Linked DNA regions of Homo sapiens: all the other regions are linked to region 2. The links come from fine-mapping of genetic effects on gene expression. A gene starts in region 2. Each other region holds a variant in brackets. All regions are shown on one strand. Distances are from middle to middle. Region 1 has its middle 42 kb from the start of PGM2. Region 2 holds the start of PGM2 (phosphoglucomutase 2). Region 3 overlaps PGM2 (phosphoglucomutase 2). Region 4 has its middle 33 kb from the start of PGM2.

The links.
Region 1: its variant is fine-mapped to the expression of PGM2 in whole blood (INTERVAL, PIP above 0.99).
Region 3: its variant is fine-mapped to the expression of PGM2 in whole blood (TOPMed, PIP above 0.99).
Region 4: its variant is fine-mapped to the expression of PGM2 in monocytes after R848 (Quach 2016, PIP 0.95).

What each region holds. Positions count from the first base shown.
Region 1 is chr4:37,780,386-37,788,501 of GRCh38, forward strand. No RefSeq gene overlaps it. Among named protein-coding and RNA genes, the nearest start is that of PGM2, 42 kb to the right of the region's middle. RefSeq lists an enhancer at 6,958-7,457. The variant A/C (reference allele first, on the strand shown) is at 3,518.
Region 2 is chr4:37,822,998-37,831,113 of GRCh38, forward strand. PGM2 (phosphoglucomutase 2) reads left to right here and starts at 3,689. Exons shown (of 14, transcript NM_018290.4): 1 at 3,689-3,816; 2 at 6,967-7,134. The coding sequence starts at 3,736. RefSeq lists enhancers at 2,158-2,327, 3,360-3,861, 3,862-4,361 and a silencer at 3,572-3,871.
Region 3 is chr4:37,848,097-37,856,212 of GRCh38, forward strand. PGM2 (phosphoglucomutase 2) reads left to right here. Exons shown (of 14, transcript NM_018290.4): 11 at 426-555; 12 at 2,088-2,277; 13 at 7,512-7,645. Among named protein-coding and RNA genes, the nearest start is that of PGM2, 25 kb to the left of the region's middle. The variant G/T (reference allele first, on the strand shown) is at 3,869.
Region 4 is chr4:37,790,038-37,798,153 of GRCh38, forward strand. No RefSeq gene overlaps it. Among named protein-coding and RNA genes, the nearest start is that of PGM2, 33 kb to the right of the region's middle. The variant C/T (reference allele first, on the strand shown) is at 3,363.

The DNA of each region.
Region 1 (8,116 bases), 43 kb before region 2:
GGCTGGGGAGGCCTCAGGAAACTTACAGTCATGGCAGAAGGAGAAGCAAACACGTCCTTCTTCACATGGCGGCAGCCAGGAGAAATACAGAGTAAAGGGGGGAAAAACCCCTTGTAAAACCATCAGATCTTGTGAGAACTCACTTACTATCATGTGAACAGCATGAAGATAACCACCCCCATGGTTCAATTACCACCCACTGAGTCCATCCCACAACACAGGGGGATTATGGGATCTACAGTTCAAGATGAGATTTCGGTGGGGACACAGCCAAACCATATTACCTTACATATGTGAATTATCTTGTTTGCTTCTGAACAGAACAGTGGTAACTACAATTGCTCTACATTTTACATTTAGGTGGATCTTAAGGTGACAAGATTTTACTCCTTTTCACAATTTTTGTGATGGGACAATAAGCAGGAGAGGAGAAAAAGGCAAAGGAGCATGTAAAAATAAATGACCTGTTTTTTACTATGTCCCCTTTCTCAGTAGAATATGAAAACTTCCTGTGTGGGTCCTTTTATGGCTGCTTCTAGATTTTCAAAGCTGTCCCAGCTGAGACGCAGGCAAAGAGAAGAAAGAGGCTGGGCTGAAAACCACTGCAATTTCCTGGGGAGAGAGTGCCCCCGGATGGGCCATTGATCTTCATTGTTCCTGCTAGACAAATAGACTTCTCAACATCAAATAAAACTTTACTTGATGAAGATTTGTTTGGAAGGATGCTTTGTTTATATTTCTTTACCCTTTTAGATATTACCTACAATTTCTGAGCACATGTGCCAAGATAAAAGAACTTAACAAGCAAAGAAAAAGGGCGTTTTTTTCTATAGGGAGAGGTTCTGAAAAATCCAAGAACATAAGACGGGTTTGTATACTGGCTGAACAACATGGGGTGGCTAAACTGGTTGTGTTTCTAAATTCTTTCAAACAGGCAGAGTTACTAATTTGTCTTATCAGATGCTCAGCATGATAAATCTAAACCAAATTATCCTATCACATGAAGTACTCTTCCCTTAAGAATCAATTAAGCATTGGAAAAATGAGAATTCTTACTTCTATGCAGAAATGATACTGTGTGGTTAGCTAAAACTAGGACTGTGTTAGCAAAACACAGACTGTATTAGGACTATGATTTGTGTACAAATCACAAAACTGATCATTCCAAAGAGAATGATAGAACAAGGGTAGCCTGGGAGTTTCTGAACTAGCATTGTAACACAATGAGTCAGTTGGTGTATCCCTCAATTCGGCTGGATTAATTTTTTTTTTTTTTTCTTTTGAGACGGAGTCTCGCTCTGTCTCCCAGGCTGGAGTGCAGTGGCGCGATCTCGGCTCACTGCAAGCTCCGCCTCCTGGGTTCACACCATTCTCTTGCCTCAGCCTCACAAGCAGCTGGGACTACAGGCGCCCGCCACCACGCCTGGCTAATTTTTTGTATTTTTAGTAGAGACGGGTTTTCACTGTGTTAGCCAGGATGGTCTCGATCTCCTGACCTTGTGATCTGCCCGCCTCAGCCTCCCAAAGTGCTGGGATTACAGGTGTGAGCCACTGCGCCCGGCCTCAGCTGGATTACTTTATCCCCAATACTGTCACCCTACTAGTTCCTGTCTTGCAGTGAAAAATAGCAGATCTGTGAGTCCAGGAGCTGGCTCAGGTTGGGGTTCACTGCTAGAATCACCCAGGTTGCTTTTGATAATGAACTCTATCTTCAGTCTGCAAAGTAGGTCGTGGGAGAACAAGTGAATTGAATATTGTTCATGAACTTTTATCATTTAATAGGGCTTCACTATAGAAAAAGTAAAAAATACAGGTAAGAATAAAGTAAAAGTTTTTTTACTTTTAAAAACTTTCCATTACCAAGAAGAAATCCTCTCCACTTTTTAGTGTGCGTTATATCCATCTGGATTTTTCTTTATAGTGTAAGTATGGTGAAAGCATGTGACTCAAGCTTTGATTCCAAAGTCAGCTAATGTGTTAGTCCATTTTCATGCTGCTGATAAACACATACCCAAGACTGGGTAATTTATAAAGAAAAAGAGGTTTGGCCAGACACGGTGGCTCACACCTGTAATCCCAGTAATTTGGGAGACTGAGGCAGGTGGATCACCTGAGTTCGGGAGTTCAAGACCAGCCTGACCAACATGGAGAAACTCCATCTCTACCAAAAATACAAAATTAGCTGGACGTGGTGGTGCATGCCTGTAATCCTACCTACTCAGGAGGCTGAGGCAGGAGAATTGCTTGAACCCAGGAGGTGGAGGTTGTGGTGAGCCAAGATCGCACCATCGCACTCCAGCCTGAGCAACAAGAGCAAAACTCCATCTCAAAAAAAAAGAAAAAGGTTTAATGAACTCACAGTTTCACGTGGCTGGGGAGGTTTTACAATCATGGCAGAAAGAGAAAGGCATGTTTTACATGGCAGCAAGCAAGAGAGAATGAGAGCCAAGCAAAAGGGGTTTCCCCTTATAAAATCATCAGATCTCATGAGACTTATTCACTATGATGAGGACAGTATGGGGGAAACTACCCCCATGATTCAATTATCTCCCACCAGGTCCCTCCCACAACACATGGGAATTATAGGTGCTACAAATCAAGAGGGGATTTGGGTGGGAACACAGCCAAACCATATCAGCTAATAAGGAGGGGAAACTTACAAATTATCACTGAACTGTCCTTAAATCACTCATAAGATTCAGTATACACAGTTTTGTGTTTATAACCCTGGAGAGTGCTTCTTATATATAAGAAGTTTTGGGAATTGCTCAACTAGAATAAAAGAAGAAACAAAAGTAATATCTTAAAATAACCTGGGAGACAGGGAAAATTCCAAGTAGTTCTGCTTCCTGGCAGTATTTAATCTGTTATGTTTTAATATTAAGCAGCTATAGCCTTAATACCTATTAACAGATGTATTTAATGGATGGATTAAACAAGATAATGGAGTCACACCTTACTGGAATTAAATTCTAAAGTTGGTGCCTAAGAAACACCTAGGGTGAAATTCCTCTCTCATTCTCTTCTTTCTCTGCGTGTGTGTGTGTGTGCATGCGTGTGCACGTGCATGCACACACACACACATACATGTGTAAAACTCAAATCATACATGCTGTTTTGGAGCCCACTTTTTCCACTTAACAAGATATTTAACCATCTTTCCACAACAATGAAATATTCTAAAACACGTTTTCTATGTATGGTTACTATTCAAAAATGTTTTCACATAATTACATTTTTGTTGCTTGTTTTGGAGAATGTGACTTATCTATATGAACTTTACAAATAATGTGCACCATAAGTTACTGGATGGGCCCTCTTTGGTATCTGAAAATCCAAAGAAACTACATGCCAAGGACCTGAAGCTGAAGGGCCTGTGTTTCTGTAGTGAGCTCTCAGAAGCAAAGGAGGGGACATCACAACCCAAGCATTAAAATGACTAATTCTTTTAACTTTTAAGTTCAAGGGTACATGTGCAGAATGTGCAGGTTTATTACACAGGTAAATGTGTGTCATG[A/C]AGTCGGGGGGCAGTTTGTTGTACAGATTATTTCATCACCCAGGTGTTAAGCCTAGTACCCCTTAGTTATTTTTCTTCATCCTCTCCCTCCTCCCACCTTCCACCTTCCAATAGGCCCCAGTGTGTGTTGTTCCCCTCTATGTGTCCTTATCATTTAGCTCCCACTTATAAGTGAGAACATGCGGTATTTGGTTTTCTGTTCCTGCATTACTTTGCTAAGGATAATGACCTCCAGCTCTATCCATGATGATGACTAATTCTGTTGTTAATTTCTCACCATGGTCCAAGACATTTTGTTTTCCAGCCATTTATTAGTTATACTCTTTCCCCATGAAAGTGATTTTGCAGCCTTTAAAGTACAGGGCAATTGCTAGACAAAAACAAGCGAAATGAGGATGGACTAGAAGGAGAAAAACTGAAGGCAGACAGACAAGACATCTATGGAAATTTCAGGAATGGCAAGGGAGACATTAGTGATAGGGACGGGGGCAGAGAAATTCTAGGCAAACAGGCAGGTCCCCAGTGAAACCCCATCCTCAAGCCAAAAAGTCTGCAACTGTGGCCCAAAATGAGAATTTTTATCCCTGTTTTATCCCTGTTTTCCCACTCAAATGTTGCCTTTTTCTAAACTACCCATGGCCCCACCCCACCCCATCCTGTGCCTATAAAAGTTCCAGCCAGTAGGCAGGAACTATGGCTAGATGTTGGAGAGAAGTGGCTTGTCTTCAGAGAGACAACTTGTTGGTGTAACTTCAGAGAAGAATCTGGCCAGAGACAGCTGGACCTCAGGGGAAGATTACCTTCCCTCACTATCCTCTTTTCAGCCCTCCTTCCTGCTAAGAGTCACTTTCATTGGCAATAAAATCCCCCTGCATTTACCATCCTTCAATTCGTTCATGCAACTTCATTTTTCCCGGATGCCAGATAAGAGCTTGGGAGACACAAGCGTGGATTCAAAAGGCTGTCACACTGTCCCTTTGCTTTCACAGGTGGAGGGCAGCTGCCTCACATGAAAAGGCAAAGGGCCTGAGCTGTTAACTGAGCTGTTAACACTTAAGCCATCCAAAGATGGCAGAGCTAAAAGAGCTCTGTAACACTCCCTCTGGGGCTTTGGGGGTTGCAGACACCCCTGCCTGGATGCTGCTGTGGGGCCTGCATGGAGTTTGCTCCTGCTGGCGCTAAAGCATCCAGCCAGTTCCTGCACCTTCTCACCTGTCTGCTCCCTCCTACAAGGGCTGGAATGCAGCAGGTCTGAGTGAGTGGAGTGTGATCCCACCAGTGCCAAAGGAGCTGATTCCAGCACTCATCTACTCCAGTTGCCACACTCGTTTGATCATGTGCTCCCTCTCATGAAGAGTTGAGAGTGGTAGGCTGAGTAAATGAAGCACACCTGTCACAAGTCCCTCGAAGGGGTCAGGGAAATATCCTGCTTCACTAGTAGTGATGTTAAAGAAAGGACTGCGTGAAAGTGTCAAATTTGAAGACTGTAGGAGAGGAAGAATTAGCAGGGGTTGGTGATTAACTAAAGATCAGTAGAAGCTGGACATCAACCATGAAATCTCAGTGTTGTGACACATCCCATCCTTCCAATCTGCAGTCTGTGGAAGCCAAAAGCTCTCACCTGGATTCTGTCCATTCTCAAGGGCTGCATTTCCCTGGATTCTTCTCCTCTGTGACCTCTTTCTTTCTCAAGAGCTGCATCTGTTCACACCAGACAAACTCCCAGTGGAAAACTCATCACTCTCTTTGATTTCCCAAACTAGCTCCTACACAGCCCACATTTATGAATTCCATAAATATGGCAGATATTATAGGCTTGGTTGATCCAGCACCATGCCTTCTCCCTTGCCTGCATCTATTATAGAAGATATAAAAGCTAAATTATTTCCTTTCATCCCTTATATTCAGGGAGGCCACGTGATGCAAGTAGAAACTTGGTGAGGATATTTCTGGGAAAGAACTAACTATCTTTAAGTTAGTTAATTCTTAAAGAAGAACATGGCCATTGTTGGTACCTTTTTCCTCATTTTCCTTCTCCCTGCCTTGAAATATAAACGTAATGTGTGAGCCCATAGCAACTACCCTAAGACCATAATGTGGCAAGCATGAGCACAAAAGCCAACAGAACAAGGATGGTAAAGTGGAAATATAGACAGTGTCTGGGTCCCTGATGGCATCGTTGAACAGCTGAATCCATGCCAACTGCTACATAGCTCTGATTTTAAATAAACTCCCATTGATGTAAGCGACCATGAGTCTAGTATTCTATTATTTGCAGCCTAATATGTTCCTAACAAACAAAGAACTCTTTGTTGTGATATTTTGGAGGTCCCAGGGAAGGTGAAAATTATGCAACTTTTCACCATCTTGCTTATCCCCTACTAATATGGTTTGGCTGTGTCCCCACCCAAATCTTATCTTGAATTCCCACATGTTGTGAGAGGATCCCGGTGGGAGGCAATTGAATCATGGGGGCAAATCTTTCCCATGATGTTCTCATGACCGTGAATAAGTCTCATGAGATCTGATGGTTTCAAAAAGGGAAATTCCCTTTCACAAGCTCCTCTCTTTGCCTGCTGCCATCCTTGTAAGATGTGACTTGCTCCTCCTTGCCTTCCACCATGATTGTGAGGCTTCCTTAGCCACATGGAACTGTAAGTCCAATAAACCTCTTTCTTTTGTAAATTGCCCAGTCTCAGGTATGTCTTTATCAGCAGCATGAAAATGGACTAATACAGTAAATTGGTACCAATAGACTGGGGCACTGCTGAAAAGATACCCAAAAATGTGAAAGTGACTTTGGAACTGGGTAACAGGCAGAGGTTGGAACAGTTTGGAGGGCTCAGAAGAAGATAGGAAAATGTGGGAAAGTTTGGAACTTCATTGAGACTTGTTGAATGGCTTTAACCAAAAGCCTGATAGCGGCATGGACAATAAGGTCCAGGCTGAGTTGGTCTCACATAGAGATGAGGGACTTGTTAAGAAATGGAGCAAAGGCGACTCTTGTTATGTTTTAGCAGAGACTGGGCATTTTGCCCTTGCCCTAGAGATTTCTGGAACTTTGAAATTGAGAGAGATGATTTAGGGTATCTGGTGGAAGAAATTTCTAAGCAGCAAAGCATTCAAGATATGACTTGGGTGTTGTTAAAGGCATTGAGTTTTAAAAGGGAAACAGAGCATAAAAGTTCAGAAATTTGCAGCCTGACAATGCAACAGAAAATAAAATCCCATTTTCTGAGAGGAAATTCAAGCCTGCTGCAAAAATTTGCATAAGTAATGAGGAGCTGAATGTTAATCCATAAGACAATGGGGAAAATGTCTCCAGGGCATGTCAGAGGTCTTCATGGCAGCCCCTCCCATCATAGGCCCAGAAGCCTAGGAGGAAAAAGTGGTTTTGTGGGCCAGGTGCAGGGTCCGCCTGCTGTGTGCAGCCTAGGGACTTGGTGCCCTGCGTCCCAGCCGCTCCAGCCATGGCTGAAAGGGGCCACCATAGAGCTTGGGCCATGGCTTCAGAGGCTTACACCCTCTGAAGCTTCCACATGGCAGTTTGGCAGCTTCCACATGGTGTTCAGCCTGCGAGTGCACAGAAGTCAAGAACTGGGGTTTGGGAACCTCTGCCTAGATTTCAGAGGATGTATGGAAACCCCTGGGTGTCCAGGCAGTAGTTTGCTGCTGGGTCAGGGCTGTCATGGAGAACCTCTGCTTAGGGCAGTGCAGAAGGGAAAAGTGGGGTTGGAGTCCCCACACAGAGTCCTTTCTGGGGCACCACCTCGTGGAGCTGTGAGAAGAGGACCAACATCCTCCAGAATGATAGGTCCACTGACAGCTTGCACCATGCACCTGGAAAAGCCACAGACAATGCCAGCCTGTGAAGGCAGCTGGGAGGGAGGCTGTACCCTGCGAAGCCACAGGGGTGGAACTGCCCAAGACCATGGGAACCCCGCTCTTGTATCAGCATGACATGGATGTGAGACATGGAGTCAAAGGAGATCATTTTGGATCTTTAAGATTTAACTGCCCTGCTGGATTTCGGACTTGCATGGGGCCTGTAGCCCCTTTGTTTTGGCCAAATTGTCCCATTTGGAATGGCTGTATTTACCCAATGCCTGTACCCACATTGTATCTAGGAAGCAACTAACCTACTTTTGATTTTACAGGCTTATAGGAGGAAGTGACTTGCCTTGTCTCAAATGAGTCTTTGGACTGTGGACTTTTGAGTTAATGTTGAAATGAGTTAAGACTTTGGGGGACTGTTGGGAAGGCATGATTTGTTTTGAAATGTGAGGATGTGAGATTTGGGAGGGGCCAGGGGCTGAAACCCAAATTCAGGGTTTGGCTGTGTGCCCACACAAATCTCATCTTGAATTCCCACATGTTATGGGAGGGACCTGGTGGGAGGTGACTGAATCATGAGGGAAAGTGTTTCCCATGCTGTTCTTGTGACAGTGAATAAGTTTCATGAAATCTGATGGCTTTAAAAAGAGCTTGTCGCCTGCACAAGCTTTTCTCTTTGCCTGCCATCATCCACGTAAGATGTGACTTGCTTCTCCTTGCTGTCCGCCATGAATGTGAGGCTTCCCCAGCCACGTGGAACTATAA
Region 2 (8,116 bases):
CTAGTTAAAAGTTCCTCTCTACTTGGAAACTACACTTGCTTTATTTCCTTGTTTCCATAAAGGAATATTGAAAAATCTGCTTCTTGGTGTCTCAAATGAAGTTAAAATATTTCTGATTGGATATCATCTTGGGCCCACAATTTCTAATAAAATAAAAGGTGCCTGGCCAGGTGTGGTGGCTCACGCCTGTAATACCAGCACTTTGGAGGGCCGAGGTGGGTAGATCATGAGGTCACGAGTTCAAGACCAGCCTGGCCAACATAGTGAAACCCCGTCTCTACTAAAAATACAAAAATTAGCTGGGTGTGGTGGCACACACCTGTAGTCCCAGCTACTCAGGAGGCTGAGGTAGGAGAATCACTTGAACCCAGGAGGCAGAGGTCGCAGTGAGCCAAGATCACGCCATTGCATTCCAGCCTGGGTAACAGAATGAGACTCCATCTCAAAGAAAAAAAAAAGGTGCCAAAATAACTTCCTTAGACACCACTCCCCACATGTTTTGAACCATAGTAGAGACTCAGCTGCAACCATCCCTATCACGGAAGGACAGATGTGAACTCTGAGGCCCAGAACTGCTGGATATTTAGAGACCCACCAGCTCCCGTCCTACCTTGGCAGAAGGCTGGAGGCTGCACAGACTCATCTGGGAAAACTGGCATTTGAGATAAAAACAAGGGTGAGTGAGATCTGCCTGGGTCTGTGATTCTCCATGTCCTGCAATTTTTTCCAGAGCATGACTGAGAAGAAGGTTTATCTGGTGCAGAGAAAAGAGATAGCCTGAGTGTGGTGGACCTGCAGACCACCTAACATTTGGGGAAACTGAGGCAGACTGTCCTTCTCTTCTTCTCTGTGCTCCAGCCTCTCAGGTTTTGCAGTCAGGGGAAGGACCACACTCTCACATTAACTACATCCTTCCCTCACATCTCTCTTAAGCTTCCAGTGCTCAGGCAAGCTTCCTGACTGAGGTGGCCTCTGTTAACCTGCAGCCTCATGACATCTCTCTGCTTTCCTTCCAGCATTTTATCAGTTTGTAATTACGTATTAACTGCCGTGATTACATGATTAGTATGCCTTTCCCATGACACTAAACAGATATTACAGATCCTGGATATATATTTTTTCTTTTTAAAATTGAAGAACACACTAGCCGGGCGCGGTGGCTCATCCCTGTAATCCCAACACTTTGGGAGGCTGAAGTGGGCAGATCACTTGAGGTCAGGAGTTCATGACCAGCCTGGCCAACATGGCGAAATCCGTTCTCTACTAAAAATACAAAAAAAAAAAAAAAAAGTCTGGGCCTGGTGGCTCACACATATAATCCCAGCTACTCAGGAGGCTGAGGCAGGATAATCACTTGAACCCAGGAGATGGAGGTTGCAGTGAGCTGAGATCCCACCATTGCACTCCAGCCTGGGTGACAGAGCAAGACTGTGTCTCAAATAAATAAATAAATAAATAAGCCGGGCATGGTGGCACGCCCCTGTAATCCCAGCTACTCAGGAGGCTGAGGCATGAGAATCTCTTGAACCCAGGAGGCAGAGGTTACAGTGAGCCGAGATCACACCACTGCACTCCAGCCTGGGTGACAGAGCGACACTGTGTCTCAAAAAATAATAATAAAATAAAGTTGAAGAACATACGGAAAATGCACAACTCATAAGATTGCAGCTTAGTGAATATTACAAAGTCAACACACCTGTTGACCATCGTCCAGGTCAAGAAACAGAACAGTCCCGGAACCCCAGAAGGCACTTTCCCTCCTTCCCAAAGCTACCACTCTGCTGACATCCATAGGTTAGTTTTGCCTCCTTTTTAGTTTTTAATCTTAAAACTTAAAAAAAAGAGATATAACTTACATACAGTGAATTTTACCCTTTATATCGTACAGTTCTATAAGTTTTGATAAAAGTAAACCCCAAACTCAATCAAGATACGGAACAGTTCCACAACTCCCTCAAATTCCCTTGTGCCCTAGGTAGTCAACCCCTCCCCCAACCCCCAGCTCTTGAAAATCACTGATTTGTTTCCTTTACCTATAATTTTATATATTTCAGTGTTTTTTTTTTTTTTTTTTTCAGGGTCTCCCTCTGTCTCCCAGGCTGGAGAACAGTGGCACAATCAGGGCTCACTGCAGCCTCGACCTCCCAGGCTCAAGCGATCCTCCCTCCTCAGGACTCCCTCCAGCTCCCCCACCACGAAATAGCTGGGACTACAGATGAATGATGCAGTATTTTGGGGTGACGGGGTATGGGGGTGGGTGTTTGAACTCTGTCACTCAGTGTTTGTGAGATTCATTCATGATGTTGTGTATAACAGTAGTTCACCTGCATTGCTCTATCAATGTGCCATGATTTATTTATATGAATTGGTATGGATATACTACCAAGTATTTATCCATTGTATTGTCGATGGTCATCTGGGTTGTTTCCAGTTTGAGGCTTTTACAAATAATGCTGCTAGAAATATTCTTGCCCGTGCTTTTTTATGCTTATGGGTATGCATCTTCTTTATGGCTTGGTGATACCAGCGTCAGGAAGATGTGCTCCTATGTTAGTTTCCCTAAGTTTCACGCTACTATGGAAAGAGACCACCATTTCTGCTGTCCTTCCCAGCTTCTCCCCCACCTCCCCTTTTCCCTAGTTTATAAGACAGGAGAAAAGAGAGAAAGCAAAAAGTTGGAAAAAAACAGAAGTAAGATAAATAGCTAGACGACCTTGGCGCCACCACCTGGCCCTGGTGGTTAAAATAATAATAATAATATTAACCCCTGACCAAAACTACTGGCGTTATCCGTAAATTCCAGACATCGTATGAGAAAGCACTGTAAAACTTCTTGTTCTGTTAGCTGATGTATGTAGCCCCCAGTCACGTTCCTCACGCTTACTTGATCTATCATGACCCTTTCACGTAGACAGACCCCTTAGCGTTGTAAGCCCTTAAAATGGCTAGGAATTTCTTTTTCAGGGAGCTCGGCTCTTAAGACGCGAGTCTGCCGACGCTCCCGGCCGAATAAAAACCTCTTCCTTCTTTAATCCGGTGTCTGAGGAGTTTTGTCTGCGGCTCCTCCTGCTACACTACCTTTCGCACTTAGAGATACAATTGATCTGGAGTTCAGAGCTGTGTGTGATGGGAGGTAGGGGGCCAAGTTCCCTTTTTTCTTTTCCCTACGTGGATATCCCTTTGACCGAGCACCATTAACCAAAAATAGTTCCTTCCTGTGCTCTGCAGCCCCGCCTCTGAAATAAATTGTCCATACACGTGTATTTTTGTTTCTGGTCTCTATCTTATGTTCCACTGGTCTTCCTACTTTGCTTTTCTTTTTCAAGATTTTTTTCTGGCTGTTCTTGACCCTCTGAGTTTCTACATAGTCTTCAGGCCCCTATCTGGGTGCACTTCCTGGTATCCCAGCATCTGACATGTGCCTGGCGCGCAGCAGGAACTCACGGCTGGCTGTAGCCTGGATGCATCAGAGACGATGGCAAACCCTTCTCACACGTGCCAGGTTCCAGCAACCCACCCTAGCCCCGCAATTCCTCCTCGCTCACTCCCACCCCCTGCAGCGCACCCGCAAACGGCAAGGAGGCGTGCCCGCCGCGGCGCGCGTCACTTTCCCCCGGACCGACTGGCTCCGCCGCGGCTCTCCCCGCCCCCGCCTCCGCCTCCACGTCTTGGGGCCGGGCCGGAAGGCAGATCTCACCGCCTGCTTCCCTCTGCAGCGGTAGCACAAGCTCAGCGATGGCGGCTCCAGAAGGCAGCGGTCTAGGCGAGGACGCCCGGCTGGACCAGGAGACCGCCCAGTGGCTGCGCTGGGACAAGGTGAGGGGCACCAGCAGGCGGGGAGCGCCTGGAGCGGGGCCGGGTGCTCTGCCCTCTCCAGGCGCGGCGCTGCTTGCTCTGCCTGAGCTGCCTTCCCGCCCAGTGCATCCCGCTTCTCCCCCGGGAAGACCCAGGAGCGTACGGCCGCTGCTAGGCTTCCTTCGACCTGGCCGGCATGCGGCACGTTCAGAGTTAGGCCGGGAAGGCTTGTCCCCGGACGAAACCAGCCATCCGGCCGGCCGGACTGCAAGTTCGGAGTAGAGGAGCGAGCCAGGGTGGTGTAAGCGCGGCCAGACCCTGGACGCTGTCTAGTTGAGGGGCGCACGCCTTACTGTCACTCAGACCGCTGGCTCGTCGTCGGTAGTCGGCTGTGCATCCCCATGGACCCAGAATCGCTCCGTCCCGCGTATTCCTTTGGCCGCTGAGACCTTTGCAGAGCAGCGTTCTGGTCCGGTCCTCCCATCCCGAGGGCTTGGTTACAAACGTGGGTTGTCCTCCCGGGTGGGCCCGCCTGGCTTCAGGAGTCCCCCTTAGAACTTTGACTGCCAGGGAGGCACACCTGGGACACAGCACGGTTTTCTCTCTCTTCATTCCGTTTCTTAGAATCAGGAACCCAGCTCTGGACATCACTCCCTCTCCTCTCTATAAACTTGCGTCTCGCCCTTTCGACCTGTTCTGCTTGCTGTTAGGTTTTCTCGGAATGTCCCTCGCTGCTCTCCTGCTGAACTTGTTTCTCCCGTTGTGACTCATATTTTGTGCCTGAACTTAAATGTGGCTTACGTAGAGAGTCAGTCCTTCCTTGGCTCCGAAGCGTTAAATTATTTATCCCTAATATTCACTCTAAACAGTCTGTTATTTTCCTTTATAGCTCTTACTACAAATGGTAAAAACAAAAAACTCCAAAAACACTTGTTTGTAGGTTTGTTTAATGTCTGTCTCCAGGGCCGACTTCAGGGGCGAGAGACCCCTGCAGTCTCACAGGACTCGCGCTCCTTGAAGGGCCCACTGTTGTTTTAATGTCCTGCTGTCCTGTCTTGAAAGTCTTACTGGTAAAACAAGAGGTCACCCACTTTCATTGTGCACTGGACCTCCATAAATTATGTGGCCAGGCCTCTCTATTCTCACTACCTTGGTTTGTAGTGCCTGGCATAGGCATAGTGCATGACACATAGTAGGTCACTGAAATACTTGAATGAACAAAGAAGATTACAAGGTCAGTAGGGGTCAGGTCTTTGTCTTTATTTACCATTCTCTGGCCCCTACAAATAAAATGTCAGCAAATCCCATTTCCAGGATGCTATTGGCAACTCCTTGGGGGCGTTTTTCTTTTCCTGGGAAGATAACCTTGTGATTCACAAGGGAAGAAAAATGTTTCCATTTCTGATAACTTGTAGCTTGCAGAGTACAGAATTCTTTTGAAGTCAGAGTTCATAATGCACTTTCTCTAAGAAGAAGAAGAAAACAATCTAATTTCTACACAGTGTTGCATCTGTGTATAGAAAAATTGTATTTCTCTGGGTAGAGATGAGATGTCCTTTTTTTTTTTTAATCACTTCTCATGTTCTATCCTCTGTTAATTTCTTCTTTGCTTTGAGACTGGCACCTGAGAAGAAGCCCATTCATTCTCCAGTGAACCTCCCACCAGCTAAAAGCATTGCAGCCCTCTAGTCAGACTACCCCCGGCGACTGGCAAGGCGCCCTGGCAGGTGCCCTCTGTCTTTCCACCGTGCCTTCATCCCTGCTCTTTTCTCTGCTGTCAGTTTTGCTCACTGCCAGGGCTGATTCTGATCCTGCTGTACTCTTGACTTGTCATTCTTACCTGTCTGTCTCCTTTGTTTCTCTCAGGCTACTTAGTCTTTCATAGATATCAAAGACCAATTAAGATTTTCCAGACCTACACTATGAACAAGGGAGGATCACTCGATATTGAGTGTGGCAGTGAAGTCCATGTTTTCTGATTCACTCCACTAATATTTATTGAGGCTCTTTTATGAGCCTCTTTTATGTACCTGATCTGAGCCTTTCTTTGGGGCACCTGACAATCTGATAGGTAAGACTGTGTTCTGTAATTAGCATCTGCTGTTTTTCACCAAAAAAGATGGGGTTTACTTGATTCCCATTGAATCTGCCACAATCTGGAAATGTGGGCTTAATTCCAGAAAGCCAAGGTTTTATTGCAGTAGTATTTCAAAGTTTAATTAAATGGCCACGTCCTGCGTGAGTGCTCATCTAAATGGATAATGACTGTAAAACAGGAATATAAAGTCCTTCCTCTGTTGTTTTCCTGAATTCATAACTTAAAAGTCTCATATGAAACTAATGTGATTGTCATTATTTTTCTCCAACCATAACATTTTCTGCAACTACCATACAAAAAAAAAATAGGGCAATGTATAATGAACTTAAATGAATCATGTTAGCGTCTATTTGAAGCAGTTAATGTTATAGAAAAGGCACTAGATTAATGTTTATCTTGCAATTTAAGCAAGTCACCCAATCTCTGAGGCTTCCCCATCTATAAAATTGGGTTTCTGTTATTTGTCTACTTCTTGGAGATGTTACAATATTCAAACTTGACCAGGTATGTGAATGCCTGGTATGAATTATAAAACATTACAAAAGTAAGGTTTTGACTTAAGTTGTGTAATCTATCACTCTGGAAAATTTGAGGGCATTAGGGAAAAAAATGGACATTTAATCACAACTAAATGCCAGGTAGAGAAAGATATTTTACATTAATTTGAAGTAAACCACCTTAAAACCTTAAAAATCGTGTAAGGGAGGTTCTAGATTATTCCCATTTTGCAAATAGGGAAACAGAATTTGAGAACTGGAATAATCTGCGCAAGCACCTAGAGTTGGCAAGTGGTATTCTGGGATTCCATTCTGGGGGTTAGACTCATATGCTAAAATCTCTACTTTGATTTCTCCAAAGGTGCTTACCTTGACAGGAAAGAAAAGAACACTTACATTATAATGTCAAACTGACTTCATATTTCAGATTTCAAAAGCATCAGAAAATTGAAAGGTCTACATATATATATATACATATATATATATTTTCTATAGATTAGAATGATTGTGAATTTTTTTACATTTCTGATTTTTCATTCACTTGTCTGGCTGTGTCTATACATTTTTGTTTTTCAGAATTCCTTAACTTTGGAGGCAGTGAAACGACTAATAGCAGAAGGTAATAAAGAAGAACTACGAAAATGTTTTGGGGCCCGAATGGAGTTTGGGACAGCTGGCCTCCGAGCTGCTATGGGACCTGGAATTTCTCGTATGAATGACTTGACCATCATCCAGACTACACAGGTACCATGTTTTTTATAATTCTTAGTAACTCAATGTATCCCCTAGCTCATTTTCTATTTGGCAGACCTAATTTATTCTAATTATAGACATGTCTTACCAGCTTGGCTAGACACAGGAAGTCACCACCATTTACTCCATAAAGTAAGGCTTGCACAATAGGTCGAAGTAGCACTTATTCAGGACTCATATAGCCATCCATCCATTCATTCATTCATTTAACACACTTATTGAGTACATACCATGTGCCAGCACTGGGGATATAAGAATGACTCGAACAAACAGATTCTCTCATGGAGCTTTCATTCCAGTATAAATGCACCAACTAAGCTGACAACTTTTAAGGTCCTGTAATTTTTGCCATGATTACATAGCAAGTGCTAAAAAGCTTTTCTAACTGCCGGAGTTACCAAGAGCCTGTTCTCCTTTGTTTTATAGTATGGATTGAGTCTGTCTTAATTTGTGAATATTTTTGTCAGAATCTAGACCCAGCTTTTAGGAAGGAGATAATTTGACAAAACAGAAGTGCTTCTACTGGGTATTGGCAGTACTGTTTATGAGGGAAATGAAATAGAACAGATTATTCACATCAGTATTTCTTCACCTTAGACCTGTTGATGATGAATGTCACTTTAATTGTGGGAAAAGAAAGGCTAGAAAAAATTGCCTAATAGTGATTACATGTGCCTCACGTATACATCCCAGTGTAAAAGGCAGAGCTGGGCATGTTGTAACAAAACTCCAACAAGGAAAGCTTATCTAAGGGTATAGAATTACCACAGGGGCCAGGCGCGATGGCTCACACCTGTAATCCCAGCACTTTGGGAGGCTGAGCCAGGCAGATCACTTGAGCCTAGGAGTTCATGACCAGCCTGAGCAACATGGTGAAACCCTGTCTCTACCAAAAATACAAAAATTAGCCAGGCGTGGTGGTGTGCACCTGTAATTCCAGCTTCTTGGGAGGCTGAGACAGAAGGATTGTTTG
Region 3 (8,116 bases), 25 kb after region 2:
GATGGCACTGACCTTAGCCTACAGCAGCTTAGATAGATTTAGTTAAGTAATCACACACAAGAGTAGAGGCCAGATGTCAAAATGAATAATGTAACTAACAAATACTATTGGGATTCAGAGAAGAAAGAGATATGTATTGACTAGGACAATTAGAAACAATTTCATGAGCTGGAAGGAGTTTCATGACTCTAGTGATTGAGCACCATGTGGCCAGGAGGGAAAATCTTGCAGGTTCTTCAGCAAATACTTCTTGAAGGCCTGCTATGGGCTAGGCACTGGGCTAAATTCCTAAACATAAGGTATTAATGAGAAATGTGCATACACGCAACACTGTACAACCTCTAATATGCAATAGCCAGGATTCATACTCATATGTGGTTTGACACAGTATTGTATAGATGTATGTATGACGTGTGTTTCTGCAGGATACATGTGCTGCCCTTTTGTTCTGGACAAAGATGGAGTCAGTGCCGCTGTCATAAGTGCAGAGTTGGCTAGCTTCCTAGCAACCAAGAATTTGTCTTTGTCTCAGCAACTAAAGGCCATTTATGTGGAGTAAGTTGTTATTGACTCTGTTGGATTGAAATAATATTTTGAAATGTTCTATTATATACTTATGCATGAGATACTAATATCCTTTCTAATGCTCTTATTTTGGTGATGAATTCTATTTCTTATAAAAATTAAATAAGGCTGGGCACAGTGGCTCATGCCTGTAATCCCAGCACTTTGGGAGGCTGAGGCGGGTGGATCACCTGAGGTCAGGAGTTCGAGACCAGCCTGTCCAACATGGTGAAACCCCGTCTCCACTAAACATACAAAAATTAGCTGGTTATGGTGGTGGGCACCTGTAATCCCAGCTACTCAGGAGGCTGAGGCAGGAGAATTGCTTGAACCTGGGAGGCAGAGGTTGCAGTGAGCCGAGATCGCGCCATTGCACTCCAGCCTGGGTGACAAGAGCTAAACTCTGTCTCAAAAAAAAAAAAAAAAAATTTAAAAAAACTAAAGAGATCACCTTTTCCTTTTGATATGTAACAAGTTAGTAATTACTATTCCCGATCGCATTAATTCTTAACAAATGACAACATGAAAGAATGTGATTTTAAGTGTCCAGTATCAAAAAAGATTGAATGTCTTCATAATACATCTATTCATTTTTTTGTAGCACTTACTCAACTCTGCCTTGCCAGTGTAGTGCGTAAGCATCCAAAGAGAATACAGAAATGCGTGTGACCTGGCTCTCTGTGCAAATGCAGGCGGAAGACCAGGCAGTCATTTGGTGATCCCTGGGGTAGATTGTTGGACCTCTTTTTTTTTTTTTTTTTTTTTTTTTTGAGACGGGGTCTTGCTCTGTCACCAGGCTGGAGTGCAGTGGTGTGATCTCGGCTTACTGCAACCTCTGCCTCCTGGGTTCAAGCAATTCTCCTACCTCAGCCTCCCGGGTAACTGGGATTATAGGTGTCCCCACACCTGGCTGATTTTTGTACTTTTAGTAGAGTTAGGGGTTTCACCATATTGGCCAGGCTGGTCTCAAACGCCTAACCTCAGGTGATCCACCCACCTTGGCCTCCCAAAGTGCTGGGATTACAGGCGTGAGCCACTGTGCCTGGCCTAGACCTCTGTTTTAATGGTCTTTTAAAAATTATTCCTTTGGCGTCAGTTTTGGCTGTTACATTTATTTTATTATTTATTTTATTTTATTTTATTTTTTGAGATGGAGTCTCTCGTTGCCCAGGCTAGAGTGCAATGGCACAATCTTGGCTCACTGAATCCTCCACCTCCTGGGTTCAAGCGATTCTCCTGCTGCAGCCCTCTGGAGTAGCTGGGACTACAGGTGCCTGTCACCATACCCGGCTAATTTTTGTATTTTTAGTAAAGACGAGGTTTCTCAATGTTGGCCAGGTTGGTCTCATACTCCTGACCTCAGGTGATCTGCCCGCCTCGGCCTCACAAAGTGCTGGGATTACAGGCGTGACCCACCACACCCAGCCATATTTATTTTAGAATACACTGGTTGGTACATGTTCTGTGTCCACCCTACAAAATTATTTGTTCCTCATGTGCATGAATTTGTATTTGTTTGATAGGTATGGCTACCATATTACTAAAGCTTCCTATTTTATCTGCCATGATCAAGAAACCATTAAGAAATTATTTGAAAACCTCAGAAACTACGATGGAAAAAATAATTATCCAAAAGCTTGTGGCAAATTTGAAATTTCTGCCATTAGGGACCTTACAACTGGCTATGATGATAGCCAACCTGATAAAAAAGCTGTAAGTAATGTCTTCTCTTTTCAACTAACCTCTTTTCTATTTACCTTTTAAAATAATTTGAATAAATTATTTAACCATACAATTAATTGAAGCTGATTTTAGGCACTTAGGCGTGATTATAAATAAGCTATAAAAAATATATGGAAGCCGGATGTGGTGGCTCATGCCTATAATTCCAGCACTTTGGGAGGTTGAGGTGGGCAAATCACTTGAGATCAGGAGTTCGAGACCAGCCTGGCCAACACGGCAAAACCCGGTCTCTATTAAAAAATACAAAAATTAGCTGGGCGTGGTAAGTTAAAAACCGCAGGCTAGAACTGAAAGAGACTCTACTAGGCTGGGAGCGGTGGCTCACACCTGTAATCCCAGCACTTTGGGAGGCCGAGGCAGGTGGATCACTTGAGGTCAGGAGTTCAAGACCAGCCTGGCCAACATGGTGAAACCCCATCTCTACTAAAAATACAAAAATTAGCCAGGTGTGGTGGCTCATACCTATAATCCCAGCTACTCAGGAGCGTGAAGCAGGAGAACTGCTTGAACCCAGGAGGCAGAAGTTGCAGTGAGCTGAGATTGCACCACTACACTCTAGCCTGGGTGACAGAGCAAGACTTCATCTCAAAAAAAAAAAAAAAAAAAGAGGAACTAGTCATCAAAGCCTGTGTGGTCATTTCGCACCTTAGGCAATAAGTGATCAGAAGTGTGGAACCTGTCTGTGGACACAGAGCTTAGTTGGTGGTGGTCCAGGGAGAATCTGGGTTTTCTATCTCAGGATCCAGCATTCTCTCCCTGTCAGGAGTTCTCACACTTGCAGGAGCATCAGTAACCAAGAAGGCTGGGGAAACAGAGTGCTGGAGCCCACACCTGGACTTTCCGATTCAGTAGGTCTGGGGTAGGAGCCAAAAATGTTCATTTCTAACAAGGTCCCAGGTGGTACTGATGCAACTGGTCCTCACTTTGAGAACCACTGTTTGTTTTCTAGTTAGTGTACTCTGTTCTCTGAGTGTATTGGAGCTGTTGGCTGTAAAGCCTGAGTTTGCATTCTTTACACCAAGCAGATCTTTCACTGGAGACAAAAGAAGACACAAAGGTAGCAGAAGAGTGTTGCTTTCTATGTTGGGGTTGGGGGAGGAAAGTTAAGAATATCCTTATGAGATGTTAGGCACGTTCTTTGATATTTTCTTTGTTCTATTTTTCATTTTCATCTGCACACAGCATATTTTTAAAATAGAAATAGTATGAAAACGCTTACGATGAAACGTGGCAGTCCCACCCCTGCCACCTCATTGCCATGTCACCAAGACTAGATTTGTAAATCATGTGCTCATATAGTGATGTTTTGATATACCAGTTTTACAATTTGTTGACTTTCTATTTTTGAGATAAAGATTTAGTTCTTACGCTTTCTACATTCAATAATTCTCTTCTCCCCATCCTCACAGTACGTTTATGCCACAGCTTTTGGTTAAATCAGATTCCGTGCTTTTGTTATTATGACTAGTAACTGCTGTTGCCTGCTAGCTAAGTAGTGTATTTTGATTAGGTTTCCCTAATTTGTATAGAGAATTGTATTTCCTGTACCTTTTGTTTGTTT[G/T]TTTTCTTTTTTTTTGGAGACAGGGTCTTGCTGTGTGACTTAGTCACTTAGGCTGGAGTGAATGGCATGATCACAGCTCCCTGTAGCTTTGACCTCCCAGGTTCAAGTGATCCTCCCACCTCACCCTCCTGAGTAGCTAGGACCAAGGGTATGCCATCATGCCCAGCTCTTTTTTTTTTTTTTTTTTTTTTTTTTGGAGGGACGAGTCTCTCCCTAGGTTTCCCAGGCAGGTCTCAAGTGATCCTCCTGCCTTAGCCTCCCAAAGTACTGGGATTACAGGCGTAAGCTACTGCGCCTGCCTTAATTCATGTAGTAATAGTTGCTTTGTTCTTCCATTTGCCTGGATTTCTATGTCCTGTCAGCAGTTTTTCCCAAATCCTTCAAATGCCTCTCAGTAGGGTTTTCCTGGTCCATGTCCAATGGCCGCCCTCCTGGTTGGGTGCACAGCTGTCATCCTGGGAATGCCCTTCTCCAGGATTGAGTCCCTTGCTCCTAGACCTCATGGCTTCCTCTTTCTATATTTATTTTCCTAGATCACATCCTCTAATAGCTTTCTGAGAACAAGTAATTGGGTGGTAAGTTTTTGGTGGCATTTAAGTCCGAAAATGTCTTATTCTGTCCTCACACTTCACTGACTCACAGTTTTGAAAGCATTGCTCCATTATTGTTGGGCTTCCAGCATTGCTATTGAGCCTCCAATCCTTCCTTTTTCAGCAGATAGTTAAGGCCTACTGTATGCTGTATGTAAGGTTATTGATGCCATACTTATTCAGTCCTTTCCATGCAACTTGTTTTGTTTGTTTTTTTCCTCTGGGAAGATTTTAGGAACTTTTCTCTAAACTTCAGGTTCTAAAATTTCACAGTGATATGCTATAGTATGGGTCCCTTTTTATTCATGTTTCTGGATACTTGGTCTGTAGAATCATTTATTTTAGTTCTGAGAAGTTTTCTTGATTATGTATCAGGAAAGGGAGCTAATTGGTTATTTTTTAAAATAATCACCTCCCCTGCATTTTCAGTTCTTTGTTTCTTGAAGAGCTCTTAGATGCTGGCTTTCCAAGACTGATGTTCTACTTTTCTTGTTTCTTTCTTTCTTCTTCTGTTTTTCTGGGAGATTTCCTTAGCTTTAGCTTTCAGTGCCTCTGTTGGCTGTTTCAGTTATAACTAATTTATTAAAAATAGTGTCCTGTTGAAACAGTGTCTTGCTCTTTCACCCAAGCTGGAGTGCAGTGACATGATCATAGCTCACTGCAGCCTTGATCTCCTGGGCTCAAGCAATCCTCCTGCTTCAGCCTCCTGAGTAGCTGGGACTACAGGTGTGTGCCGCCATGCCCAGCTAAGGTTTTTTAGTTTAGTAGAGACAGGATCTTGCTGTGTTGCCCAGGGTGATATTCCTTTTTTTTTTTTTTTTTTTTTTTAATGTAAACAATATCTTACCTCTCTAAGGATTATAGACCTAATTATAGTTTTTTAAAAATATATGTCTTCTTTTTCTGCTACATTCTCTTTATTTCCACCAAGTTCTTTTTATTCTGTTTGTTTTGGACTTTGTCTTTTACATGATGTCTTTCCCCAAAAGTCTGATGATCCTTAATTTTCCTTTGGGCACCTAAGAACTGATTGGAAGCTCTGTGTACATATGCAGATCAAATGACATACTTCACTCAGAGGATATTGGTAGCAAGTTAACTTTATAAGGGGATCCCCCTGATTTAATGAGACCTTAATCACCTACCCAAGGATGATAAGATGAGATGCCAAGGCCCTGGAGGCATGACTGGGGCGGAGCTGGGGGTGTCAGCCTGAGGACTTCTACTTGATCCCTCTGTTTTCATCATGCCCTGCCCAGGTTCCCCAACTCCTGAATGTTTCTGATTTAATCTCCAGAGAATTTAAACCATCTCCTGCAGAAATGGAGAAGAGGTGGTTCTGTGACGGTGTGGGCTCAGGGCAAGGAACCGGGATGGTCTAAGAACTTCTTTCAAACCCTGTTCCTGCTTTCCACCCCTGCCTCACATCTGCCTTTTGCAGTACCTGGTGCCTCTGGTTCTTGAGCTTGGCCAGGATTTTGCAGAGCACCTTGCCTCAGTTCTCATCCATGTCTCCTTCCGCAGGCACTCAGATTTCATTCTCTGGGTCCCACCAGACCAGTTCTGTGCCTCCATCTGTTTTCTGACTTGTGCGATCGGTTGGCAGCCCCATCAGCTGCTACCTCCTCTTTGTCTCTTTGCCCGTGTGTTTATGCTATTCAAAGTACCTCTATTTTAATGGAGTTTTGGGACCTATCAAATATAAATATACCATTTCCTCAAGACCATTTTTCTTTTCTAACCAGTAAATTTATATGGCATTTATTTTTTCTTACAGAAGCTTCCTTTTTTTTCTCTTTTTCTTTTCTTTTTTGGAGGCATAGTTTCACTCTGTTACCCAGGCTGGAGTGCAGTGGCGCAATCTCGGCTCACTGCAACCTCCACCTCCCGGGTTCAAGTGACTCTCCTGCATCAGCTTCCTGAGTAGCTGAGATTACAGGCACCCGCCACCATGCCTGGCTAATTTTTGTATTTTTAGTAGAGACGGGGTTTTGCCATGTTGGCCAGGCTTGTCTCCAACTCCTGGCCTCATGTGATCCGCCCTCCTCGGCCTCCCAAAGTGCAAAGTGCTGGTATTACAGGCATGAGCCACCGCGCCCAGCCTGGAAGCTTTATTTAAAAAAAAAAAACAAAAAAAACTCCTTATGGAATTTTCTTTGCAAAGATTCACTTTATAACAGTAAATATAATCTAGTTTGAGGTTTTTTTTTGTGGTGTATTAATCTGTTTAAGTCAATATCTTGTGAAATGATGTGTTTAAATAAAACTTTAATAACTTCAATAGAACTAGGGAAGTAAAAGCTAATACACAAAGTTACTTAATTTTCTTTATTTAAAATTAATTTAGTTATGTTAATTCACAAATAAAAATTGTATACATTTATGATGTACAATCCGATGTTTTAAAATGTATACATTGTGATAGCTAAAATCAAGTTAATTAGAATGTGTTACCTCACATATTGATCATGTATTTGTAGTGAGAACACTTAAAATCTACTCTCTTAGCAATTTTCAAGTATACAATGCATCATTATTAACTATAGTCACCGTATTGTACAATAGATCTCTTGAACTTCTCTTCTGTCTAGCTGAAACTTTAGGCCCTTTGACAAGCATCTCCCCAAACTCCCCTCCCTTATCCCCACCCTTCCCCAGTCAGCCCCTGGTAACCACTATTCTGCTCTCTGCCTCTGTGAGTTCAACCTTTTCGGATTCCACATGTAGGTGAGATCATGCGGTATTTGTCTTTCTATGCCTGGCTTATTTCACTCAACATAATGTCTTCCAGGTTCTTCCATATTGTTGCAAATGACAGGATTTCCTTCTCTTTTAAGGCTGAATAGTATTCCATATAGTAGACCACATATTCATAAATTACTATCGTTTAGTATTTCATTCATGTGGAGTACATTTTCTGATTTCCTCCAGAATGTTTTTCTTTTCTAACCAATAGATTTGTTTGGCATTTATTTTCTTACTTATGCAAGAGAAGATATTGGTTAGGCCAGAATGTTACTATTTAAATTTATAATGTGTGCATTAATTCCTAGGTTCTTCCCACTAGTAAAAGCAGCCAAATGATCACCTTCACCTTTGCTAATGGAGGCGTGGCCACCATGCGCACCAGTGGGACAGAGCCCAAAATCAAGTACTATGCAGAGCTGTGTGCCCCACCTGGGAACAGGTATGATGTGGATGGCAGCTGGTGTGATTTTTACTCCCCAGACTTCCTAACTGGTTCTATTCAAATGCCAAGTGAAATGTTCCATCTTTCTAATAGGTAATTTAATTAGAAATGCTGTTTCAGAACCTGCACTAATATTTTGGTATTAACAGTCAGTCTCAGCATCCAGGGAAAAGCTTACTTTTTACTTTCTTACTTTTGTCCTAAATTTCTTTGTATGGGAAAATTTTATCCTTATTTCAGTATAGTAGTAAAAGTGCCTTTTTCTAAACACTTTTCATTGGTAGCTAACACCAATGAGATTTTCTCTTTTTCTCAAACTTCAGTCTTCCCATGTCTCTGATAAAATAAATTATAATCCGGGCCGGGTGCGGTGGCTTACACCTGTAATCCCAGCACTTTGGGAGGCCGAGGCAGGCGGATCACGAGGTCAGGAGATTGAGACCATCCTGGCTAACACGGTGAAACCCC
Region 4 (8,116 bases), 33 kb before region 2:
ACAGGAATGGCCCAGTGGTGGCAAGCTGGACAGTAGCACCATTACTGTTTATAAAAAGCATGCAGTTTATACAGCATTTTCACTTAGGACCCTCCTCTCAGCAACCTCCATTTAACCCAAAACAAAGGGCCTCAATCCCTTCAATCTCTGGGTTGGCCACTCCTGGATTCCTTAGCTTGGAACTCCAAACACACATGCTTCTTAGACCCTAAAATCATTCTCAGGGTATGTTTAAATTATTGTTGTAAGGTGCATCTGCCATATACCAGGTAAAAACATGAGAATCTGTACCACACTGGGCTCAGAAAGTTCGTGTGTTCAGCCAGCAGAGGTCGGCTGACAAGACCATCTCAACCTTGGCTTGGAAAAGCTCAAGACAGTTAGTGGCTTCCTCAGAAATATGAATCTGTGTGTTCTCTACCAAGCAATAATTGAGATTACTAGGAATAATTGAGAATGTACTTCCTGATGAATGAGGGAGTACAGGGAACTTCACCTTAAAATTTGGCTCCTTGGTGTAAGGAATGAATTAAAGTCCCTTAGAGCTCAGCAAAAGCTGGAAGAGACTTTTTCTCTAGCTACATAAAGACAGGACAGACCCACCAAGGAGAATAATGGTTTTTCCTTTCCTTCCCTGTTATCTCATTATCTTTTGCAGAAAAGAAGATCACAAATGTAACCGCACCTGAACAGACTCTTTCACAAGATAATAACTGTCTCTCAGGCTCATTCTGTTTTCAAAGAGAACCATTTACAAGTTAATCTCCACTCCCATCCATTCATTCTCCCTAGTAATCATGTACTGCCCCTAAACAGAATTACCTATATTCCCCATCTCTCCCCCAGCCTCTGAAATAAGGCTATATAAGTATCTGGGCCCCACTGGGATTTGGGGGTGATATGGTTTGTGTGTTTCCCCACCCAAATCTCATCTTGAATTGTAATTCCCACAATTCCTATGTGTTGTGGGAGGGACCTGGTGGGAGATTATTGAATCATGGGGGCGGGTCCTTCCAGTGCTGTTCTCATAATAGTGAATAAGTCTCATGAGATCTGATGATACTAAAAAAGGGAGTTTCCCTACACAAGCTCTCTCTTCTCTTGTCTGCCACCATGTGAGATGTGCCTTTCACGTTCTGCCATGATTGTGGGGCCTCCCTAGGCAAGTGGAACTGTAAGTCCAATAAACCTCTTTCTTTTGTAAATTACCCAGTCTCGTGTAGGTCTTTATCAGCAGCTTCAAAATAGACCAATACAGCAAATTGGTACCAGCAGAGTGGGGCACTGCTAAAAAGATATCCAAAAATGTGGAAGCAACTTTGGAACTGGGTAACAGACAGAGGTTGGAACAGTTTGGAGGGATGAGAAGAAGATGGGAAAATGTGGGAAAGTTTGGAACTTCCTAGAGACTTGTTGAATGGTTGAATGGCTTTGACCAAAATGCTGATAATGATATGGACAATGAATTCCAGGCTGAGGTGGTCTCAGCTGGAATAAGGAACTTGTTAGGAACTGGAGCAAAGGTGACTCTTGTTATGTTTTAGCAAAGAGACTGGTGGCATTTTGCCCCTGCCCTAGCAATTTGTGGAACTTTGAACTTGAGAGAGATGATTTAGGGTATCTGATAGAAGAAATTTCTAGCAGCAAAGCATTCAAGAGGTGACTTGGGTGCTGTGAACAGCATTCGGTTTTGAAAGGGAAACAGAGCATAAAAGTTCAGAAAATTTGCAGCCTGATAATGTGATAGAAAAGAAAATCCCATGTTCTGAGGAGAAATTCAAGCCTGCTGCAGAAATTTGCGTAAGTAACGAGGAGCTGAAGATTAATCCCCAAGACAATGAGGAAAATGTCTCCAGGGCATGTCAGAGGTCTTCATGGCAGCCAAGAAGGAGGCCCAGAGGGCTATGAGGAAAAAGTGGTTTCGTGGCTGGACCCAGGGTCCCCTTGCTGTGTGCAGCCTAGGGACTTGGTGCCCTGCGTCCCAGCCACTCCAGCCATGGATGAAATGTGCCAATGTAGAGCTCAGGCCATGGCTTCAGAAGGTGCAAGCCTTCAACCTTGCCAGCTTCCATGTGGTGTTGAGCCTACCCGTGCACAGAAGTCAATAACTGGGTTTGGGAACCTCCACCTAGATTTCAGAGGATGTATGGAAATGCCTGGATGCCCAAGCAGAAGGTTGCTGCAGGGTCAGCATCTCATGGTGAATGCAGTGCAGAAGGGAAATATGGTGTCAGAACCCCCACACAGAGTCCTTACTGGTGCACCACCTAGTGAGGCTGTGAGAAGAGGGCCACCATCCTCCAGACCCCAGAATGATAGATCCACTTACAGTTTGCACCATGTGCTTGGAAAAGCCACAGACACTCAACACCAGCCCGTGAATGCAGCTGGGAGGGAGGCTGTACCCTGCAAAGCCACAGGCATGGAGCTGCCCAATATGATGGGAACCCACCTCTTGTGTCAGCATGACATGGATGTCAGACATGGAGTCAAAGGATATCATTTTGGAGCTTTAAGATTTGACTGCCTTGCTGGATTTTGGACTTGCATGGGGCCTGTAGGCCCTTGGTTTTGGCCAGTTTTTCCCATTTGGAATGGCTGTATTTACCCAATGCCTATACTCCATTGTATCTAGAAAGTCACTAACCTGCTTTTGATTTTACAGGCTCATAGGCAGAAAGGACTTGCCTTGTCTCAGATGAGACTTTGGATTGTGGACTTTTTAGTTAATGCCGAAATGAGTTAAGACTTCGGGGGACTGTTGGGAAGGCCTGACTGATTTTGAAATGTGAGGACATGAGATTTTGGAGGGGCCAGGGGTGGAATGATATGGTTTGGCTGTGTCCGCACCTAAATCTCATCTTGAATTGTAACTCCCACAATTCCCATGTAGTATGGGAGGGACCCAGTGGGAGTTAATCGAATTATGGGGGTGGATATTTCCCATGCTGTTCTCATGATAATGAAAAGTCTCACGAGATCTGTTGGTTTTACAAATGGGAGTTTCCCTGCACAAGTTCTCTCTCTCTCTTTGCCTACCACCATCCATGTAAGACATGACTAGCTCCTCCTTGCCTTTCACCCTCTCTCATAACTGTGAGGCCTCCCCAGCCACGTGGGGATTGAAGGGCAGAGAAGGGCAGAGAAGGGCAAAGGTAAGTCCAATAAACGTCTTTCTTTTGTAAATTGCCCAGTCTAAGGTATTTCTTCATCAGCAGTGTGAAAATGGACTAATACAGGGGTAATCACTGGTTCTTCCCTGTGTGCACATTAATAGACTGGTATCCCATTTCTCCTATTAATCTCCTTTTGTGAGTTGGATGTTCAACAAACCTTCAAGGGGTGAAACAGAAGATTTCCAT[C/T]GGCCCCAGTCTTCCCAAAGGCACAGAGGTTAGGGGTTTCTCAAATATAGTTTGGTGGGCAAAGGATTAGGGTTGGGGGGCATGTTGATTTGTTGGGTCAGAGATGAAATCATAGGGAATGTCACTTTATGTATTTATATATATGTTTTTCCTCTCTGTGTGAACCTCACATGTATGATTTTTGTTAAATATATTCAGTACTTACTTTAAAAAAAAAATACATTCTTTTGTCTAAACTAGTGGTTCTCAAGAGGTGATTTTGTGTCCTGCTGCCAGGGGACATTTGGCAATGTATGGAGACATTTTTGGTTGCCACCACTGGGCTGTTGGGGGTAGGTGAGGTTCTACTGTCATCTAGTGGGTAGAGGCCATGGATGCTCCTAAACATTCTGCAGTGAATAGGACAGTCTCAAACATCAAAGAATTATCCTGTCCAAAGTGCCAGTAGTGCTGAGGTTGAGACACCTGCTCAAACTCAAAGACCAGTAAAAATTTAGAAAGAGAGAGAGAAAAGTAGAGTGCTTTTGAGTCCCCTTAAACTCAGGCTTAGCTCTTAGTTGTATTGATGTAATTATAATTTATTTGCTGTGTTATTTTTTGGCAGTGTAACCACCCAACCACCCACTGCTCACACAAAATTGACTCACTGAGACCATAGCATTGCAGTAAAGAAAGAGTTTAATTGGCAGAGCTGGCCATGCCATATAGGAGATTAGGGGTTTTTAAAATGCAGTTTGATGGGCAGGGGAGTAGGGTAGGGGGCATGCTGATTGGTTGGATAGGAGATGAAATCATAGGGAATTGAAGCTGTCTTACTGTGCTGAGTCAGTTCCTGGAGCCGGGGTGGGGTGAGACAGGACTTGTTGGCAGGTCCAGGTGGAGCCATCTGGACATCTCCAAAAGGCAATCTTAGCTTCTACAATAGTGATGTTATTTATATTTGCAAGAGTAATTGGGGAAGTTTCAAATCTTATGACCTCCGGAATAATGCCTTGTAATTATTTCTAATTCAAACCCCTCTTATCCTCCTAACTTGGTGGTCTTTCATTAGTTTTACAAGAACAGCTTAGTTTTGGAGAAAGGCTATTATCATTTAAACTATAAACTAAATTTCTCTCTAAGTTAGCTTGGCCCACTCCCAGGAGCAAATACAGTCAACCTATGAAGCTAGAAGCAAGATTAGAGTCAGCTATGTCAGATTTCTCTTACTTTCATAATTTTGCAAAGGTGGCTTCAACAGTGCCTGTAATTACTTTCATTGTAAAGTAACATATTTTTATAACCCAATGACAGTAACTAGATGTTTGATATCATCTGTCTATATTCTCTTACCTACCTTCTTTTATATCACATTATTTTAGTCTGAAAGCAAAATAATCCCTTAACATCCTTTCTAAAGTAAAATGATTTATCCAGTTTTGTTTTTTTTTCTCTATCCCAATCTTAGCATTTCACCTAGGAAAGACTACAGACGTGTTAATCCATGCACATGATTGTTGGGACCATAACAGTTAGATGGCCATCATTGTGTTGCTGCAATTAACCTCTTTCCTCCAGGCTTACATGCTTACCACTTCTATGCTTCACAGAGAAATCATGTTCTCTGGGTACCTATACTCATCATTTCCTCCACTGATCCTTGTTATTTCCAATTCAACCAGTCTCATCTATGCTTCCCTTTTTGGAGCTCTGTTGCTTCTTAAAAGGAAGTTTTTATTGAATTTGTCTTCAATCAGCTCTCTCCCTTCAGAATTCTGTGTATCTGCTCTCTTCCACTTAGTGGAAGTGGTACTTGGTCAAATACATGTCGGTGATGGCGCTCACATTTTGGTTCATACAGCTATTAAACATGTATTTTCTCTCCAACTAGAGAAGCTCCTTTTGGGCAGGGACAATGTCTCACTTTTCATGACATCCTGAAGCACCAGGTATAGGACTCAAACAAAAAGGCATCCATTGACTATTGAATTCATGAGTAAAATGTAGATAATAAGTTTATATATTTGAGATGACATGAGCATATGACTTTATGTCCTCAGAGTCCTAATTTGGCCACCATGAATTGAAGGAAAAGCATCTCATTTCCATGACAAAATCTTTCCTACAATAAAAATTGTAAGTAAGCTTGGATACATTTCACATGACTAACTCATGACCAAAAAGAAACTTGATCTGTGACCTTCAGTAACACACTCGATTTAGAAAATGTGAATGGGCTTAATGATTAGTGACGGTTGCTAAAAATTAAGGCTTTAAAAAATCTTATTTATGTGAATACTAAAGCTGCACACACCTGGAGGTATTAGTTGATGTCCTTGTTGACCTAAAAGGAGGAGGCTGAGGCACAAAATATAATTTAAAGAATTTACTTGAGCCAAAGGGAAGACAGCTGTTGAGACGCTCTTCCCAGTTGCACTGGGGAGTGCTCTGTTAGCTTTTGTTGTAAGCAGGTTTCTAAAGGCAAAGGGAACAAGGAATGGTCTGATGTAAAGTTCTTTGACAGGAATTCTCACTGGTTTTCAGAGAATAACATTGCTTAATGATTGGCCATGCACTGTGGGACTGCAGGATATAGTGTTATAGTGTCTGGCATATGGCATTTGATGGCTACTTGGCATCAGTTAGTCTAGAGCCCACATGGCAAGTGGCTTCAAGAGATAATTATTTAGTTCAAGGGGGAGTGATGTGACTGCTGTTTCATTCAGTGCCTTTTGGGGCCTGATAATTTAAAGGGGCTCTCATTCTTCAGATAAAAATTTTCTTTCCTTCCTTTTTCCTCCACACCATTTTGAACAAACTTTCTGTTTTCTTAGTTATCACTTTCCTCCTAATAGTCTTTAGAGCAAACAGAGCAAGTAAGCCAACCAGAAAAGCCACAGAAAACACACTTTCCATATACCTACCGTCTATTTTCCTCTTAGACGCATACTTGATCCTACGACAAAAGACTTGTCTCCAAATAAATCGATTTAAAATATGTGAAACATTATATCTTTTAAAAAGTGACGTTTCATAATAAAACTATGTCTACTATGCATTTGCTTTGAGTTTTTATAACTTTCCAAAAAAGTTTTCCTCTTGCCGGTAAATACGTATCCTATTTCTACAGCTCTGGGATGGTATCTATTTATTATACATTATTTATCTCTAAAATGTTTTACTAAGCCAAAAAGGAGAAGAACACATCATACGGAACAGTACCCTGTGTAAGGAGGGAAGTGTCAGAGACTCCATAGTGTACTCCCAGTGTGACCAGTGAGAGCTACTGCCCTGCCCTGAGTTGAGATGTTCTGAAATAGCTATTGCATTTCTATGTGCCCTCTTTTTCTGCCATTATTAGCAAACAGTTTTCATCCATTGGCTGACAAAACTGGAGTAATGGATAGTGCTGGACCAGCAGTAAAGAAACAAGGAATATCAGCCTGAATGTGGGAATGCAAGTTTTAGTGCAATTCAACAGCTATCAAGGAAAAGGTCAAGGAGGTCTAGGATAAGGGGCGGCAGGCAAGCGGGCATCAGTGGAGGCCCTTTGACTTTTTGAAGAGCTTCAGAAACAACACTATAGCCTGGAAAGGCTGATCTACACTGGAAGACATGGTAGCTCCTGGCAAGGAATGACCCCAGCCGAGAAGAGCAACTGCTAATGCGTGATGAAGGATGGATGAGGCCTGGGATGCAATGGGCTCATAAAGCACTGACTACCTGGAGTCCGTGAGAGCTCTCATTTCCAGTAGGAAGTTTCACTGTCTCCAGGGCAAATGAAGGATATGTGGACATTATACATTTTTTAAAAAATTTAAGTGCAAGCATTTTTGTTCTCCCCATTTATTTGTTCATTCATTCGTTTATTCAACTAACATCCATTATGTGTTCTTTGCTGCACGCTGAAGATACAAAAAGCATTAAGAAAGGAACTCTGTTTGTAAGAATCTCACAGTTCCTTAGGAGCTGGGTGTGGGATGTTCTTTGCCCCTCTAGATCTATTCTCTGCCCTTCGCCACCTTGCCCAGTGGCTCCTGGAAGCTGACTTTTCTGGAAAGTATCAACAGGGCTCCCTTGCCTTCCAGCTTCAGTTGGGCTCAGCCACTAGGAAGCACAAGAGGAGAGGAAGGGTAGCAGGAGAGGAAGGGCGGCAGAAGAGGAAAGTGAAGCATTGCCCTGGCTTCCTTCATGCCTGCTAAGGCTTAACAATGGCTGCACTTCCCTAAAGCCACAACTGCTGAGAAGCAGCCTGCTTCCAGAACTACAACCAGCTCTTCTGTTCCTGGCTTTTCCAGGCCCAGGGCTGACAGTGGCCCCCCACAGTGTAGCCTGGAAGTGCTTTATCACTCTTGGTTCTCCTTGACCTCTACATGGCCCCTCCATTAAGCTTTCTTTCATTTATTTCCTGTATGATGACATAACAAGGTTAGCTGGGCAATAAGCAAATATCCTATAGTGTCAAGTGTACAATGAGGGCAAGAAAGGATTAATCAGTCCTAACTGGGGGGGGGGGGGTCAGGTGAGGCTGTGGTCTATAAAGTCCTGTCCCTATTCACCCTTTCAATTGCATGCTGAAGTTTCTCTAAGAACATGAAATCAATCACGTTATCTTCCAGCAATGGCAGTGGAAAAATCTGATGACAACCCCAGGAAGAAAGTTCAATGGCCATGTGATTGACTATATAATGATGTTCCATTTATCTAAAAATAGTACTTTGCTTAACTTACACTAACGCACCTTACAGTTATGAGACACTACCTACTTAAAATAG